2 linked regions of the Homo sapiens genome follow. The protein of the gene in region 1 interacts with the protein of each later gene in a pairwise test. Each region holds a gene or a part of one and is shown in the gene's direction. Other genes may lie near its edges. The genes, in order: TMF1 and CMTM5.

The links.
Region 2: the proteins of TMF1 (region 1) and CMTM5 interact in binary tests that used the Homo sapiens proteins (3 or more experiments, as listed by UniProt).

The regions. Positions count from the first base shown.
Region 1 is NC_000003.12:69,041,751-69,049,613, reverse strand, and holds part of TMF1 (TATA element modulatory factor), read left to right. Parts: intron 1-578; exon of another isoform or gene 579-656; intron 657-1,051; coding exon 1,052-2,256; coding exon of another isoform or gene 2,257-2,265; intron 2,266-5,018; coding exon 5,019-5,122; intron 5,123-5,737; coding exon 5,738-5,864; intron 5,865-6,701; coding exon 6,702-6,807; intron 6,808-7,863. UniProt on the Homo sapiens protein: Potential coactivator of the androgen receptor. Mediates STAT3 degradation. May play critical roles in two RAB6-dependent retrograde transport processes: one from endosomes to the Golgi and the other from the Golgi to the ER.
Region 2 is NC_000014.9:23,371,781-23,380,635, forward strand, and holds CMTM5 (CKLF-like MARVEL transmembrane domain-containing protein 5), read left to right. Parts: upstream 1-5,265; 5' UTR 5,266-5,471; coding exon 5,472-5,597; intron 5,598-6,568; coding exon 6,569-6,721; intron 6,722-6,888; coding exon 6,889-7,089; intron 7,090-7,250; coding exon 7,251-7,343; intron 7,344-7,518; coding exon 7,519-7,603; intron 7,604-7,693; coding exon 7,694-7,707; 3' UTR 7,708-7,992; downstream 7,993-8,855. Other genes in the region: IL25 (interleukin-25 isoform 1 precursor), read left to right, coding at 1,339-1,616, 3,845-4,100.

The DNA.
Region 1 (7,863 bases):
ACACATTTCTGAAATTTATAATGACCTTGTAATTTCTGACATAATTTAGAATTTGAGAACAAAACTTCCTCTTAGAGTGGGCTTGGAGAGTGGGATTTAGAGAATCAGCCTGTGATTAAGTGGATGAAAATGAATTTGTTCTCTAGAACTTACCATTCCCATCAGTTTAATATGATCTTCGGGAAAGAACATTTGTCACCATTATCTTGGTTTGAGGCTTTTGTTGTTTTGTTTGTTTTCGAGACAGGTTCTCGATCTGTCACCCAGGCTGAAGTGCAGTGGTTTGATCATGGCTCACTGCAGCTTCCACCTCCTGGGCTCAGATGATCTTCCCACCTCAGCCTCCTGAGTAGCTGGGACCACATATGTGGGCCACCAGGCCCAGCTAATTAAAAAAATTTTTTTGTAGGGACAGGGGTCTCACTATGTTGCCCAGGCTTGTCTTGAACTCCTGGACTCAAATGACTCTTCTAGTGTTGGGATTATAGGTGTGAACCTCCATACCCACTGAGTTCAGTTTTTGAGTGTTGCCCTTTGTCTAGCTCATAACTATATTACTGATATTACAAGTAAAAATTAATATGAAACTGACTGAATAGGTAGGGTCATTTTTCTGTGACTGCACATGGCCCAACCTATTCAGTTAGTTCCATATTAGTTTATTTCATATTGATAAGTAAAGCGTGTTATTATGAGATGAATCATAGGTATCTTGGACTTACTGTGGGTTATAAAACATATACTGTTACTTCCTTAATTTGTTGTGGGGAGGAATAACATACTCGCATCTGGTAGTCCAGGCCAGGCCCAGTCTTTTGTCTGTGCTCCTCCTTCCTCTCAGGTGGACCCACACCAGTTTTCTTCCGTAAGTCCCTGTATTAACTTGGAAACTACTTAATGATGTAGTAAGCAAGGAGTTTAGCAGGTGCAAATTACAGGTATTTCATAGGGTATTTTTTCTAAATTTATATTTATACTGATTTATAATGATGATTGAAATATTAATGTAACATATATGTGTTCTTTTTTAATATTTACTTTTTTGTTAAAGGAATAAGTTCCCCTGTCAGTGGAGGATGGGATACTTCAACCTGGGGGTTGAAATCAAACACTGAACCTCAGAGTCCACCAATAGCCTCTCCTAAAGCAATCACAAAGCCAGTTCGGAGGACTGTGGTCGATGAATCTGAAAATTTCTTCAGTGCCTTTCTCTCGCCAACTGATGTCCAGACCATTCAGAAGAGTCCAGTGGTATCAAAACCTCCAGCAAAATCACAACGACCAGAAGAAGAAGTGAAAAGCAGCTTACATGAATCCTTGCACATTGGCCAGTCAAGAACTCCTGAAACAACTGAATCACAAGTAAAAGACTCTTCTTTGTGTGTTTCAGGGGAAACTCTGGCAGCAGGTACTTCATCACCTAAAACTGAAGGCAAGCACGAAGAAACTGTTAATAAAGAATCGGATATGAAGGTGCCAACTGTAAGTTTGAAAGTATCTGAAAGTGTAATTGATGTGAAAACAACTATGGAAAGTATATCTAATACGTCTACGCAGTCTCTCACAGCAGAAACAAAGGACATAGCTTTGGAACCTAAGGAACAAAAACATGAAGACAGGCAGAGCAATACACCTTCTCCTCCTGTTAGTACCTTTTCATCAGGTACTTCTACCACCAGTGATATTGAAGTTTTAGATCATGAAAGTGTAATAAGTGAGAGCTCAGCGAGCTCGAGACAAGAGACTACAGATTCAAAATCAAGTCTTCACTTGATGCAGACATCTTTTCAGCTTCTCTCTGCATCTGCTTGTCCTGAATATAATCGTTTAGATGATTTCCAAAAACTCACTGAGAGTTGCTGTTCATCTGATGCTTTTGAAAGAATAGACTCATTTAGTGTACAGTCATTAGATAGCCGGAGTGTAAGTGAAATCAATTCAGATGATGAATTGTCAGGCAAGGGATATGCTTTAGTGCCTATTATAGTTAATTCTTCAACTCCAAAGTCTAAAACAGTTGAATCTGCTGAAGGAAAATCTGAAGAAGTAAATGAAACATTAGTTATACCCACTGAGGAAGCAGAAATGGAAGAAAGTGGACGAAGTGCAACTCCTGTTAACTGTGAACAGCCTGATATCTTGGTTTCTTCCACACCAATAAATGAAGGACAGACTGTGTTAGACAAGGTGGCTGAGCAGTGTGAACCTGCTGAAAGTCAGCCAGAAGCACTTTCTGAGAAGGAAGATGTTTGCAAGGTAACTCTAGTAAGTGGAAGGGATTTTTAGATGTGCTTTTTGGAGATTAAATCATTTGTTTTAAAAAATACTTTCATTGATGCATAATAATTTATACAGATTTAAAAACATACGCATTTTGCCATTTCTGTGTAGCATTAAGTACCTTGAAGTTGAACAATTATTAATATAATTTGGAATTTCTCCAAGGCAATTATGGTAGAATAAGTTGATACTTCAATACAGTTAAGCATGAAAGTTTTCATCTTACATCTTTATTTTTGAGTCCTTATCACTTCAAAATTCTGTTATGCTTATTAGTATGTCAATTTGAAAGGAATATTTTCTTACATTAACATGTATCTTCACCTCCTTTGCAGATAGATGTGCCAAAAAAACTAAATGTTATGGTTTTTCTTGTATCAGAATTTGTTTTTACATGTTTACATTATTTGTAGCAAATATTAAATGATAATTTAAGATTTTAATTATTGGTGCTTTTCTGTTATTAGTATTTTCATTCATATATAAGGAGTATATATCCTTATATTGCTTCAGTTTGTTTTCTGCTTATGTTATTTTTGAGATCTCCTATTGATAGCTATATTTCACATGAACGAGAAAGAGAAATGTCTAAGGAACAAAAGCATTGCTTAGGAGGGACAGATTGCTTCTACCTAATACATGTGAAAGGAAAGTGATATAAATTCTTTGACATTAAGTCCTAGTTTTGGTTTTTACTGTGACTTTTAGATATACAAATTTAGTTGGATCTGGTATCTTTAATAGACTTCTGAGATGTAGGATGTCTTGAAGAAATGTCCTGTAAGTGCCATGTATTGAATTACTTAATTTTTTAAAAAAGTGCCAGATTCTGTTAATCAGGTTAAATATTCACAAACAAAATGCTGTGCAATAATATTTCAATTAGTAATAGCTATATACTGTAAGATATATAATAGGAGTTTGAATTCTTAGAAACCAGCACTAATTACTATCAGATATTTTTGAATTTCAGTGTATTTAAGAAGGTAAGTGATTTCTAAGTTCATCTAAACCAAACTCAGGTAAGACTATTTTTTTGAGTCCAAAAAGGAACCCTTCCTACTCCTTTTATACTCAAGTTTATCACCATTTGAGTAGGACCTAAGGAATTAGACATTCCAAGCATTACTTTTTGTTTAGCTTTATACTGATACATTATGGAGATTTAAAAATTCTTATGGGTTTTCTAAAATTACTTTTAGTGTGGATGGATGTATGTATGAATGAGACAGGGTCTCTCTCTATTGTCCAGGCTAGCGTGCAGTGGTGCGATCGCGGCTCACAGGGTCTCTCTTTGTTGCTCAGGCTGGTGTGCAGTGGTGCGATCATGGCTCACGGCAGCCTTGACCTCCTGGGCTCAAGCAGTCCTCCCACCTAATCCGCTCTAGTAGCTGGGACCATAGGCTCGCACCACGCCTGGCTATTTTTTTGATTTTTAGTAGAGATGAGGTCTCACTATGCTGCCAGGCTGGTCTTGAACTCCTGGGCTCAAGCGGTCTTCCCATCTTGGCCTCCCACAGTGCTGGGATTATAAGCATGAACCCGTGTCCAGCCCTACTTTTATTTTATTTTATTTATTTATTTTTTGAGGCGGAGTCTTGCCCTGTTGCCCAGGCTAGTCTGCCTCCCAGGTTCAAGTGATTCTTCTGCCTCAGCCTCCCAAGTAGCTGGGACTACAGACGTATGCTACCATGCCTGGCTAATTTTTGTATTTTTTGTAGAGATGGGGTTTCACCGTGTTGGTCAGGCTGGTCTTGAACTCCTGACCTCAAGTGATCTGCCCTCCTCAGCCTACCAAAGTGCTGGGATTACAGGCATGAGCCACCATGCCCGGCCTCTACTTTTATTTATTTATTTATTTTTACTTTTTGAGATGGAGTTTCACTCTTGTCACCCAGGCTGGAGTGCAAGATCATTGCAGAATCTTGGCTCACTGCAACCTCCACCTCCTGGGTTCAAGCGATTCTCCAGCCTCAGCCTCCTGAGTAGCTGGGATTACAGGTGCCTGCCACCATGCCCAGCTAATTTTTGTATTTTCAGTAGAGACTGGTTTTCACCGTGTTGGCCAGGCTGCTCTCAAATTCCTGACCTCAGGTGATCCCCCCACCTCAGCCTCCCAAAGTGCTGGGATTACAGGCATGAGCCACTGCGCCTGGCCTACTTTTATTTTTTAAATGCAATATGTCATATTTTAAAAAGGGTATGTGTTTCGGGTAAAGAATAATACAGAAAATAGACACTTGTGTATCCACCACCTAGCTAAAATATAGAGGCTTTAAATTTCCTCTTTGACCTCTTTTGATTGCATCCATCTCCCTTCTTCTTTTGGTGTGTATGCAGATTATTCCAGATTTTTGCTATTACCAGGAAGCTACATAAAGTATTCTTATACATGTCGCCTAGTGCATTTATGCAAGAATTTTCTCCTCTAAGGTATACCTAAAAGTGAAATTTTCTATATCAAAGAGTATGTAGATCCCCAACTAGATATTGCCTAATTGTTTTCTCAAGGGGTTTCTCAACTTACACTCCCACTAGCTATTTGGTTGTATTTACTTTTACTCTCCTCTCAGCTGCCTAAGAGTTCTTCTTGTTCTGGATCTTCTGTGTTCCTAATACTGTTCTTGATTGTTTTTATGAGATAAAGCTGTTTTCTTTGTTACAGTGATACACCTGCATGTAAAAATGGTCTTTTTTAAAGCTAAGCGTTCTGACTTTTATGTATTCGCCTTATCCAGACAGTTGAATTTCTGAATGAAAAGCTGGAAAAAAGGGAGGCTCAGTTATTATCTCTTAGTAAGGAAAAAGCACTTCTAGAAGAAGCTTTTGATAACCTGAAAGAGTAAGTATTCTGCAAATGTGAATAATGTTACACATTTTCTGGAAACCTGTATACTTTGTACATATTTAAGAATGTTTTTGAAATTAAAATGTTTTGTAATTTTATCATTATTGAAAGTTGTATAGCTTTCAATTATAACCCTAAAGATTACTTTTCTCTTTTGATTGTCTTTACCCTTTGCCATTGAAGAGAGTCATTTTGCAAAACTGGAAAACTCTTTCCTTTCGTTTTTAGTCTTTTAGTATTAGAGATTTAAAACGTATTTGAAGAAAACTGTGTTAATCAATAACACAGTTGTGCTATAAGGAGCTGATTGGGAAAATGTGATACAAGAAGATTCAGAATTGAAACATTGTATTTACTCTTCTCTTATTTTTACATGTCAGATATTGGTGACATTTTCTCTTTCTAACAGATTTTCTTTGAGGTGTTTTAAAATAAATTTAACAAGGGAAATTTCCTTTTTTTTTCTTAAAAGTTAATAGGCCTAAAACTGTTCTATTTTAATAAGGTATATGTCAGAGAAAAGTTATCTTCCTTTTGAGAATTGAACTCATGTATACCTTTGGGATATATAGACACCATCCTCATTCTCAAATATTATTTTAAATTTAGTGAAATGTTCAGAGTGAAAGAAGAAAGCAGTAGCATTTCTTCCTTGAAAGATGAGTTTACTCAAAGAATTGCAGAAGCAGAAAAGAAAGTTCAACTAGCCTGCAAAGAGAGAGATGCTGCTAAAAAGGTAATTGAAATTTAAAGTAATATTAATTAAACTCTATAGAGATATAGATTTTTGAGGAGTGCATTCATCGTATTTTGATATTGGAAAAAAGAGAAGTAAGGTGAAAAGGATATCATCTATTAACATTTAAATTGTAGATTTTTGGCCACGTGTGGTGGCTCATGTCTATAATCCCAGCACACTGGGAGGCTGAAGTGGGCGGATCACTTGAGCCCAGGAGTTAGAGAGCAGCCTGGGTAACATGGTGAGACCCTGCCTCTACTAAAAAATACATAAAGTTAGCTGGTCATGCTGGTGTGCGCCTGTGGTCACAGCTACTCAGGAGGCCGAAGAGGGTGGATCGCTTGAGCCCAGGAGTTCAAGACCAGCCTGGGCAACATGGCGAGACCTCATCTCTACAAAAAATACAAAGATTAGCTGGCCATGGTGGTACATGCGTGTGGTCCCAACTACTCGGGAAGCTGAGGTGGGAGGATCACCTGAGCCTGGGAGGTTGAGGCTGTGGTGAGTCGTCATTGTACCACTACTCCAGCCTGGGTGACAGAGTAAGACCCTGTCTCAAAAAATAAAAATAAAAATGAAAAGGAAAGTTAATTTATTCTCATTTATATTTTCATATTAACACTTGCTTGTATATCTGAATTTAGGTTTTGAATATCATTTTCAAAGTTGTTTTCTTAGTCTTAGTTAACCAAGGTAGTAGATTAACTGAACAAAACTTACAGATTCTTATTGCAAATGTGATTATGGACAGCTTCTTTGGATGGGGGAGAAATGAGAACTGTACTTAGAGTGAAAGTCATTCTTTACGGTATTCACAGATTTCTTTTTTATTAGGAAATCAAAAACATAAAAGAAGAACTTGCCACTAGATTAAATAGTAGTGAAACTGCAGACCTTTTGAAAGAGAAAGATGAGCAGATCCGAGGGTTAATGGAAGAAGGTGCGTATAGTATTTGGTTGACTATGAAAAATACTGTAAGAACAGGAAAAGTACTTGCCACATAACTAGCTGATGCTTCCTAATTAAAAATACTGAAAGCAAGGAGGGTTTGGACGTAAACCATAGAAATAGGTGACAGTTTATGGAAGAATGAGGAATAAGATATATTGAGACAGAGATACGTGTTTCTAGCTTTTGTTTTTTGGAAGTAAAAAGAAAAGTAAGTCCCTGTAAAATAGACAGAAATTTGTGCTGCCCTAAGAAAACTTTAAACAGGTCTTAAGAGCCTGTCATTTAAACCAAGACATTCAAAGTGTGTAACTCTGGGATTTATGTAATATCTGAATACCTAGCTTAAGTACTGTATGATATTGTCTTTTTCTGACATTTGATAGTGAATTTTTCATTGTATTAATTTTTAAATTATTAAGCACTTTTGTCTCTGAAAAGATTTAAAATAAACAGGGTTGGCTGAGTGTGGTGGCTTATGACTGTAATCTCAGCACTTGGGGAGGCAGAGGTGGGTGGATCATTTAAGGTCAGGAGTTCGAGACAAGCCTGGCCAACATGGTGAAACCCCGTCTCTACTAAAAATACAAAAATTAGCCGGGTGGTGGTGGTGCGTGCCTCTAATCCCAGCTACTCAGGAGGCTGAGGCAGGAGGATTGCTTGAGCCTGGGAGGTGGAGGTTGCAGTGAGCCAAGATCACGCCACTGTACTGCAGCCTGGGCGACAGAGTGAGACTTTGTCTCAAAAAAATAAATAAATAAAATAAAATTAATAGCATTACAGAAATTAAAGATCTATTCATGAAATAAATCATTACAAATGGATACTGAATTAATTTCTTCATGTAATATCCTGGGAGAGAGGAGCCTTTGGAAAACGTGGTCAAGTGAATCTCTCTTTTTATTTCTCTTGTTAATTAAAGTTTTTGTAGTTATAAGAGTAATACTTGCTACTTGTAGAAAGTTTTGAAGTTATAGGAAAGTATATGAATAAAGAGGAAAAGTAGATTATAATCCAATATTATAAGGAACTATTAATTTTTTCTAG
Region 2 (8,855 bases), on another chromosome or scaffold:
GTTGGGTGCGTATGGGGGATGAGGCAGGCCAATAGGCAAGCATGAAGAGAAGGACCTGGGGGGAAGGACACACTGGCCCACTCTCAGCACAGTGTCTCCCAAGCAGGCTGGACCCGGCTGACCTGTGTCTTTGGGGTCAAGCCCAACTGTAAGCCTTTCTGGGGCACACATACACCCTCCTGGCTAACAGTGGCCCATGTTTCTGGACCTGCTGAGGCTGAGTGGGCTCACTTCATGGCCTGAAAGCAGTAGCTGACCCTGTCATGGGCTTGGTCCCCAAGGCTCTGTGAATGAGAGCAGGTTGGTTCCTGGAACTGAGACCTCCTTCCTGTTGGGTCTTAGGTGAGGCTGTTTCAGTTTCCCTCCTCTTCCTTGCTTCACCTTCTCATTTGTGCAATGGGGACACTCACCCACAGCTTCTTCCATCAGACCTTGCCCATCCAGCCAACAAACTTAGGAAGTCAGGGTCTTCCAGCAGCCCTGTGAGGGTAGGCTTGTATCCCCGGTGGGGGGCAGTGACTGGCGAGGGCAAGGGGGAGTTAGGGAGTGGGTCATGGACAATGGGGGAGAAGTCATAGCTGATGGGGGTCATAGAATTTTGGGGTCATTGAAAATGTGGAAGAGGTCAGAGAACAAAGGGGATGGGAGTCAAAGGATGTCTAAGGGAAAGGAAATAATCACGAAGGTGGATGATCAGAGGGACACCTGGGAAGAGGGGAATGGTGAAACCAGACCCTGGATGGGGGGAGCAGGGATCATGGAAACGAGGCCTCTTGAAGGGAGGCCACAAGACATTTCCTAATTTTGGCTACCAAACCAACCAGGGAAATCCCGCTAATGCCAGTTCACAAGAATGCAGAACAGCAGACTGTTATTGCTTTGACCCCATGGCCAGAAAAATTCAAAGAGCAAAGTTTACCCAATCAGCTACCAGGCATATAATGATGGTCATCACAACTTCCATGAGTATTGCATTTTAAGCAGCCTTTGGAAATACTTTCAGAGTTTTTTTGGTTTTGTTTTTTAACCTCAAGTCACTCCCTAAAAAGACAGTGGAAATAAATTTGAATAAACAAAACAGGCTTGCTGAAAATAAAATCAGGACTCCTAACCTGCTCCAGTCAGCCTGCTTCCACGAGGCCTGTCAGTCAGTGCCCCACTTGTGACTGAGTGTGCAGTGCCCAGCATGTACCAGGTCAGTGCAGAGGGCTGCCTGAGGGCTGTGCTGAGAGGGAGAGGAGCAGAGATGCTGCTGAGGGTGGAGGGAGGCCAAGCTGCCAGGTTTGGGGCTGGGGGCCAAGTGGAGTGAGAAACTGGGATCCCAGGGGGAGGGTGCAGATGAGGGAGCGACCCAGATTAGGTGAGGACAGTTCTCTCATTAGCCTTTTCCTACAGGTGGTTGCATTCTTGGCAATGGTCATGGGAACCCACACCTACAGCCACTGGCCCAGCTGCTGCCCCAGCAAAGGGCAGGACACCTCTGAGGAGCTGCTGAGGTGGAGCACTGTGCCTGTGCCTCCCCTAGAGCCTGCTAGGCCCAACCGCCACCCAGAGTCCTGTAGGGCCAGTGAAGATGGACCCCTCAACAGCAGGGCCATCTCCCCCTGGAGATATGAGTGAGTCTGCTGCCCCTCCCGAATGCCTGCCCTGTGTGTGCTGGCCAGGGTATGCGTGAGGGACCAGGGCAATTCCAGCTTACTTTCCCATTTTGATCTCAGAGGGGCTGTAAAGGTTTGGGAGTTAGACAAGGTCTGTATTTGAGTCCTAGCTCTGACTCTCATTGGATGATCTTGAGTCAATTCAAGTTTTCAAAACTCAGGGTTTTTTTTTTTTTCACCTGCAAAATGATATAATGCCCCATAGGCTAATGTGCAGATCAAATGAAATATAATGTATGTAAAAGTCTGTATTTATGTTGGTTCTCTCCTTTTCTTTTAAAACATCCCTATAATGGCCCATGTTTTTTCTGGGTAAAATATTAGGGAATAATGGCATGATACAGGCATGAAGCATCCCAATACCAATTGATACTGCCCTGGCCATGAATGGGTTAGTTATAAGCATACTAAAGGAGTGAAACCCTTAACTTTTGGGGGCAGCTGGCTGGCTGGAGCTGTGGACTGGATATCTTTGATCATGATCATGGGTACTGTATTCTTTCACTCAGTGTGCCACATAAATATTATAGTTCTCTATTTGTGCCATGATATGAAAAATATTAGGAAGTGCTGAAATATGAATGATGAAGCAAAATATTAAAAACTAGGGTCTTAGGGATTCCAGACATGTGATTTCACTTCTTCCTTCTAGTTCTGTCTTAGCATTGGCTTTGGGGGTAGATGGAGAAGTTCAGTGGTGGGGAGGGGGTCAGATCTAACTGAGATTGGATCTAGTGTGGACACTACAGGTCATGACTCTTTGGAGTGGTCTCAGAAGCTGGCTGGGTCCTGGGCCAAATCAGATGGCATGGGAGCTTCTTAGGGGAGGCGGGTGCCAGAGGTTAACTCAGCTGTCTTCCAGACCCCTTGCTGGGAGTCTGTGAACCCGAGAACCACTCAGGTGGCTTTCCCCAAAGTGTGTTCTGTGCAATGCTCATCCCATGAGCTGCTTCTCAGAAAAAAGTGATGCCAGGTAAACTTGGGAAAGACTGCTGTATCTCCTACCCCTTGGAGATTCATACTGTCATTGTACATTAAAGTCTGCAAGAAGTCTGTAGAAAGTAAACCGTTAAACTGGTGTTTCCCAAATTCATTTAAGCACCCAACAGGTGCAGGTGATTTATTAGGGAACCCACTTTGGGAAGTGATGTGCTAGCTAATTCCATTTGCCAGGGCTTGTCTGTGTGGGGAATGGTCCCACAAGCTGGAGACTGTCGCCTGCCAGACTAATGGAGTCGCAGACCTGTGGGACATCTACTTTTCAGTGTTTTTCATCTTTCTTTCTTTCTTTCTTTTTTTTTTTTTGCCATGAAATCCTTTCAGAATAAGTAAATAAGTCTTCCCATGCACTCTCAAGTATGCTTATAATATAAGCTTGCACAGCGTCTGGAAGAATGTGCAGGAAATAGTTGAGGATAGCTTCTTCTGGGGAGTGGGGCTGGTAGGGAGAGACTATTAACTTTCACTCTTTATACTCTTTAATACTTGGATGTCAGAGTGGTTTTTACTTTTGCAATAATGCTATAATAATAATAGAAACACCACCTAAAGTCCGGCCCGGTGGCTCATGCCTGTAATCCCAGCACTTTGGGAGGTCGAGGTGGGTGGATTACCTAAGGTCAGGAGTTCAAGACCAGCCTGGCCAACCATGGCCAACATCATGAAACCCCATCTCTACTAAAAATATGAAAATTAGCTGGGTATGGTGGCGGGCATCAGGAGAATCGCTCGAACCCAGGAGGTAGAGGTTGCAGTTGAGCCAAGATCGTGCCACTGCACTCCAGCTTGGGTACTCCGTCTCAAAAAAACAAAAACAAAAAATCAAAAAACAAACAAAAACACCTAAAGTGTAATCATTACAATAAGAAACCTCATGCTGAGTCAGATAGAAGCAGTGCTGGTCAATGGAGGCTAAGGCAGGAGCCTGCTCACCCTCCCCTGCCTCCCTCACGGTCCCAGGACCAGTTGGAAAGCACTCTGTCACCTGCTACCCTCATTTACAGTGGGGAAAATTTAATAAAGGAGGGAGGTGACTTGTTCAAAGTTACACAGCAAGTGGGTTCAGAACTGAGACAAGAGGCCAAGGCCCCAGACGGACCATTTCCTTCTTCTGGCACTCCCATGCCACCCCACCCTCTCTGTTTCCGGCCCATCTTTCCAAGGCCTGACAAGTGCCGCCCCCACAGGTTGGACAGAGACTTGAACCGGCTCCCCCAGGACCTGTACCACGCCCGTTGCCTGTGCCCGCACTGCGTCAGCCTACAGACAGGCTCCCACATGGACCCCCGGGGCAACTCGGAGCTGCTCTACCACAACCAGACTGTCTTCTACCGGCGGCCATGCCATGGCGAGAAGGGCACCCACAAGGGCTACTGCCTGGAGCGCAGGCTGTACCGTGTTTCCTTAGCTTGTGTGTGTGTGCGGCCCCGTGTGATGGGCTAGCCGGACCTGCTGGAGGCTGGTCCCTTTTTGGGAAACCTGGAGCCAGGTGTACAACCACTTGCCATGAAGGGCCAGGATGCCCAGATGCTTGGCCCCTGTGAAGTGCTGTCTGGAGCAGCAGGATCCCGGGACAGGATGGGGGGCTTTGGGGAAAGCCTGCACTTCTGCACATTTTGAAAAGAGCAGCTGCTGCTTAGGGCCGCCGGAAGCTGGTGTCCTGTCATTTTCTCTCAGGAAAGGTTTTCAAAGTTCTGCCCATTTCTGGAGGCCACCACTCCTGTCTCTTCCTCTTTTCCCATCCCCTGCTACCCTGGCCCAGCACAGGCACTTTCTAGATATTTCCCCCTTGCTGGAGAAGAAAGAGCCCCTGGTTTTATTTGTTTGTTTACTCATCACTCAGTGAGCATCTACTTTGGGTGCATTCTAGTGTAGTTACTAGTCTTTTGACATGGATGATTCTGAGGAGGAAGCTGTTATTGAATGTATAGAGATTTATCCAAATAAATATCTTTATTTAAAAATGGCCTAATCTGTATTTGGCATCCGTGGTGCCTGAACATCTCGCGGTCTCCCAGCCTGTCCCTTCTCCTTTCCACCATTGGCCCTCACCTCTGTCCACCCTGCCAGCTCTCTCCGCCCTCCAGAGTTTCCGCTGCACCCTCCCGTCCTCTCCCATCTCTGTCTCCCTGGCCCATCCCAAACACCAGGGTGGGGGCTAGGCCGCGCTCCCGGCATGCTGGAGAGACAGAGGCCCATTGAGGCATTGCAGCAGGCACAGAGCGCCCCCTTGTCCCCCAACAATCCGCCTTTGTCCTCCAGTCCTGGCTGCTGCAGCTTGGTCCTGGGGGTGCTGCCTGGGCTGGGCTCCAGCTCACACCCTCCCTAAAAGGAAATGGGAGAAAGGACCGGCCAAACAAGAGGGTTAAGGTTAGAGAAGGGGGACACAAATGTCTTCAGGCTTAGGTCCCTGGGGGCTCCCAGTCCTGCCCCTGTTCCTCTACTCACATCCCAGCTCCTCCCAGTTTCTTTTCGGACCTCCTCCTCTCCCCTTCCTTCTCTATTCCAGGCTGGGTTGGGCTCTAAGCAAGGGGAGGGATTAGAGCCTCCTTCCTCTCTGCCCCTCCCCATGGGTCTCTAGGGGGCTGGTGCAGGCAGCAGCAGAGGCACTCTGGGCAGCTGGGTGAGGGCCCATCTGGGCAAGGCCCCCAGCGCCTGCCTTCTCTCCCGGGGCCCTGTGGGCAAGCCTCCTGCTTCACTTTCAGGTTTCTCGAAGTGCCTTCTTGCTCCTGTCTGTTTCCCCATCCTGCCAGATTTCTGTTTCTCTTGCTGGGCTTTTGGCAGTAGGGGGCTGTGTTGGTGGGCCCTACGAAGATGCTCAGTGCTCGAGATCGCCGGGACCGGCACCCTGAGGAGGGGGTAGTTGCAGAGCTCCAGGGCTTCGCGGTGGACAAGGCCTTCCTCACCTCCCACAAGGGCATCCTGCTGGAAACCGAGCTGGTAACAGCTGCCTCCCAACCTGGTGCCTCCATCTCCCTGACCCCCGGCTCCTGGCCAGCCTTATGCCAGCCCCCAGCTCACCCTTCAGTAGCCTCCTTCCCCAAGCCCTCTGGACACCTCTCCTGCCCGCAGCTGCCCCTTCTTCGTCTCCTACTCTGCCTTCTTGCTGCCTCTCCACCCGGAGACATTTACAGCAGGTTTCAGTTGCAGCAGGAAGGACTGCAGTTAGACAGGGTGACTTTTTGGGACATTGAGGAAGCTTGAGACATAGGGATGGGACAGGGGCAATGACAGCCTCTAACATGGCCACTTCTCAGCACGTCCAAGAAGTCTAACTATCAAAAAGGGCAGACTTCCTGCAACTGCACTTTATCTGTGGTCTGCTGCCCAGAAACATCTCTTCTCAGGAAAGGATCTTCCCCTGGTTACTTAGCAAGACCACAGTGTAGAGTTAAGGCCTCTGCACGTATGCCACCCTAGGTCATCAGAGCTAAAGGGGCTCCCAGAAACCACTGGGCAGCATCTGCCTTCTCTCTTGGCATGGAATCAAAGGCTCTGGTCCTTGTCAGGGGGCTTTCAGGCATCTGGGGGTGGGGAAAGCATTATGAGGCAGGGGGCTCCTCTTGGTCCCTGTGGAGTCGGGTCTCTGTGGGCACAACTCCAGGGGCTGGCATTCACACTGTACCTATGAATTACTGTGGGATAGTGCTCCTGGGAGCCATATGGCTTGGCCAGACTGCTGGGGTTGCTGGGTGAGCAGAGTGGGAGGCCGGAGACTGCCCTTGACCGGCAAATGCCCTGCAACGGTGGCTCCTGACACCAGGGGATAGGGAGATGTGCCAGAGTCCTTCCTCCCCTCCAAGGACAGGTAGTAGGTGCCAGCCTAGGGGAGCTTCCAAGGAGGGGAAGGCAAAGCCCTGGCCCCTGCCTGTGTCCCCTTCTTGGCATGTTCCACATGCTCGGTCCTGCAGGCCCTGACCCTCATCATCTTCATCTGCTTCACGGCCTCCATCTCTGCCTACATGGCCGCGGCGCTACTGGAGTTCTTCATCACACTTGCCTTCCTCTTCCTCTATGCCACCCAGTACTACCAGCGCTTCGACCGAATTAACTGGCCCTGTCTGGTGAGGAACCCTGACCCCTAGCCCAGTTTGGGGCCCTTCCCTCTCCTCTAAATGATGCATTTTCCTTTCCTCCCCGAGCTTCTTTCCATTTCCACACCACAGCTGGGCTTTGTCCCATGCTATGCCCTGCACTCAAAGGTGTGCTTTGACTCACACTGATTTCACAGCTGCAGGGCCACGGGCAATCAGGAGGACCACATCCGCTAGATCTACTCTCCCACTCAGCAAAGGTCCAGCCCCAGCCCTGGCCTGGCTTGACCCCCCCGGGCTGGCATACTCCAGCCGCTGTCCCCTGGGTTCCAGCCCCAGCGCCTGGCTTCTGGTCCTGGTTGCTCTGGTTCATCTGCTTCCACTCCCTGGGTAGCAGTGTGAGCGCTCTGTCTCTTGAATGTGCTTCATATTGTGTGAGGGGTATCCTATGGAGGGGTTCAGAATCCCTCAGGGTCGGGCTGCTGGCTAGCCTGGAAAACTTCAGGGTAACGCCCCCTGCCTTCTGAGGTCCTGTTAACCCTGCACCCCTGGCCCCCAGGACTTCCTGCGCTGTGTCAGTGCCATCATCATCTTCCTGGTGGTCTCCTTTGCAGCTGTGACCTCCCGGGACGGAGCTGCCATTGCTGCTTTTGTGAGTTCAGCCCTGCAGGACTCCTTAGCCCCTCAAGAGCTCAGGCTGGTGCTTGCACACTTTCTGTATCAGAAGCCACAGCCAGGACTTGGGGTTCTGGCTTGCACCTCACCCTATACCTTAACCCAATGGCCCTATAGCCTCTGTTTTGCCATCCCCACTCCCACTCCCACAGGTTTTTGGCATCATCCTGGTTTCCATCTTTGCCTATGATGCCTTCAAGATCTACCGGACTGAGATGGCACCCGGGGCCAGCCAGGGTGAGTGCCTGTGCTCTGTGGAGAGGAGATGCCCTCCCCACCCTAGCTACCCATCCTGATGTGGGTCCCTACCTGGCTCTATCCTCACAGGGGACCAGCAGTGACTCTGGGGCTACCTGGCTCCTAGGCCCAGCCAGCCAGAGAGGACAGTGGAGCCCAGACACGTCTCCTTGGGATTCACTAGCCCCCAGCCCGCCAAACCCCACCCCAGCCCTACACAGCAGTCTGGCCTGAGACGTCACTGGGGACTTATCTGTGGAGCCTGGTGCTCCAGGATGTGGCTTCTCATGAAGCTCTGGCCAGAGGAGGGGAACTTATTGGGGGAGGGGGGGTGGAGGGGAGGAATCTGGACCTCTAAGTCATTCCCAAATTAAAATATTCAAATTCTACTGGTGAGTCTCTTTCTTCCCCAGAAATTAGGCAGGTCAGGAATGTCAAGGAGTATTCATGGGAATGTTGCCAGAGCAGGTCGTGGTCTGTCTCTGGGACTGGGTCTGAGCAGTGAGGATGTGGGGGCTAGCCAGAAGAAGCTGAAGACATCCTCCAACACAAAACTTCTACGCTACACCTCTGTGTGCACGGCCACTTTGTGGTGTGCCTGGTGGCTGGGCATCTGGAGTTCTGTGTCTGAGAAGGCACAGCCTTCCTCATGGGAGCATGCATGCACCACCACACCTGTTCCCGCAGGTTAGTGGGCTGGAGGCCAGGCGCTCGCCTGGGGCGTGTGCAGAGCTCCCCCTTGTGGTGTGGGGAAGACTTGGCCCACAGGACGCAGGGAGAGGGCAGCCTGAGGTATCAGAGGAGGGAGAGATTTCCCAAAATGCGAATGCTGGGAGAGCCGTTGATTATCAGCTGGTCCAATGCCCTCATTTCACATAAGAGAAAACAGGCCCAGCCAGGGGAGGTGAACTCATTTGTGACAGAGCTAGGGCCAGAACGCAGCTCTTCTGACACCTAAGCGAGTGTTCTGGATACTGTACTGAGCCTCCTTGTAGCTCAGAAAAGAATGGCCAACTCTTCCCTCCACTGCGGGTCCACCCTCCCAGCTTGCCAGCTCCTCAGCACACATTTCCTGAGCATCTCCCATGCACACTGTGCTGGGTGCCAGGGCCTCAGAGGTGACGGGGGGCCTGCCCTTTAGCACTCACAGGCTGGGAAAGAGACAAGCTGGTCAAGAGCTCCCCACAGTGAATGCTATGGGAAGGCTCAGGGGAGTTTGGAGCAGACACTGCCACAGCCCGGGAGTCAGCCC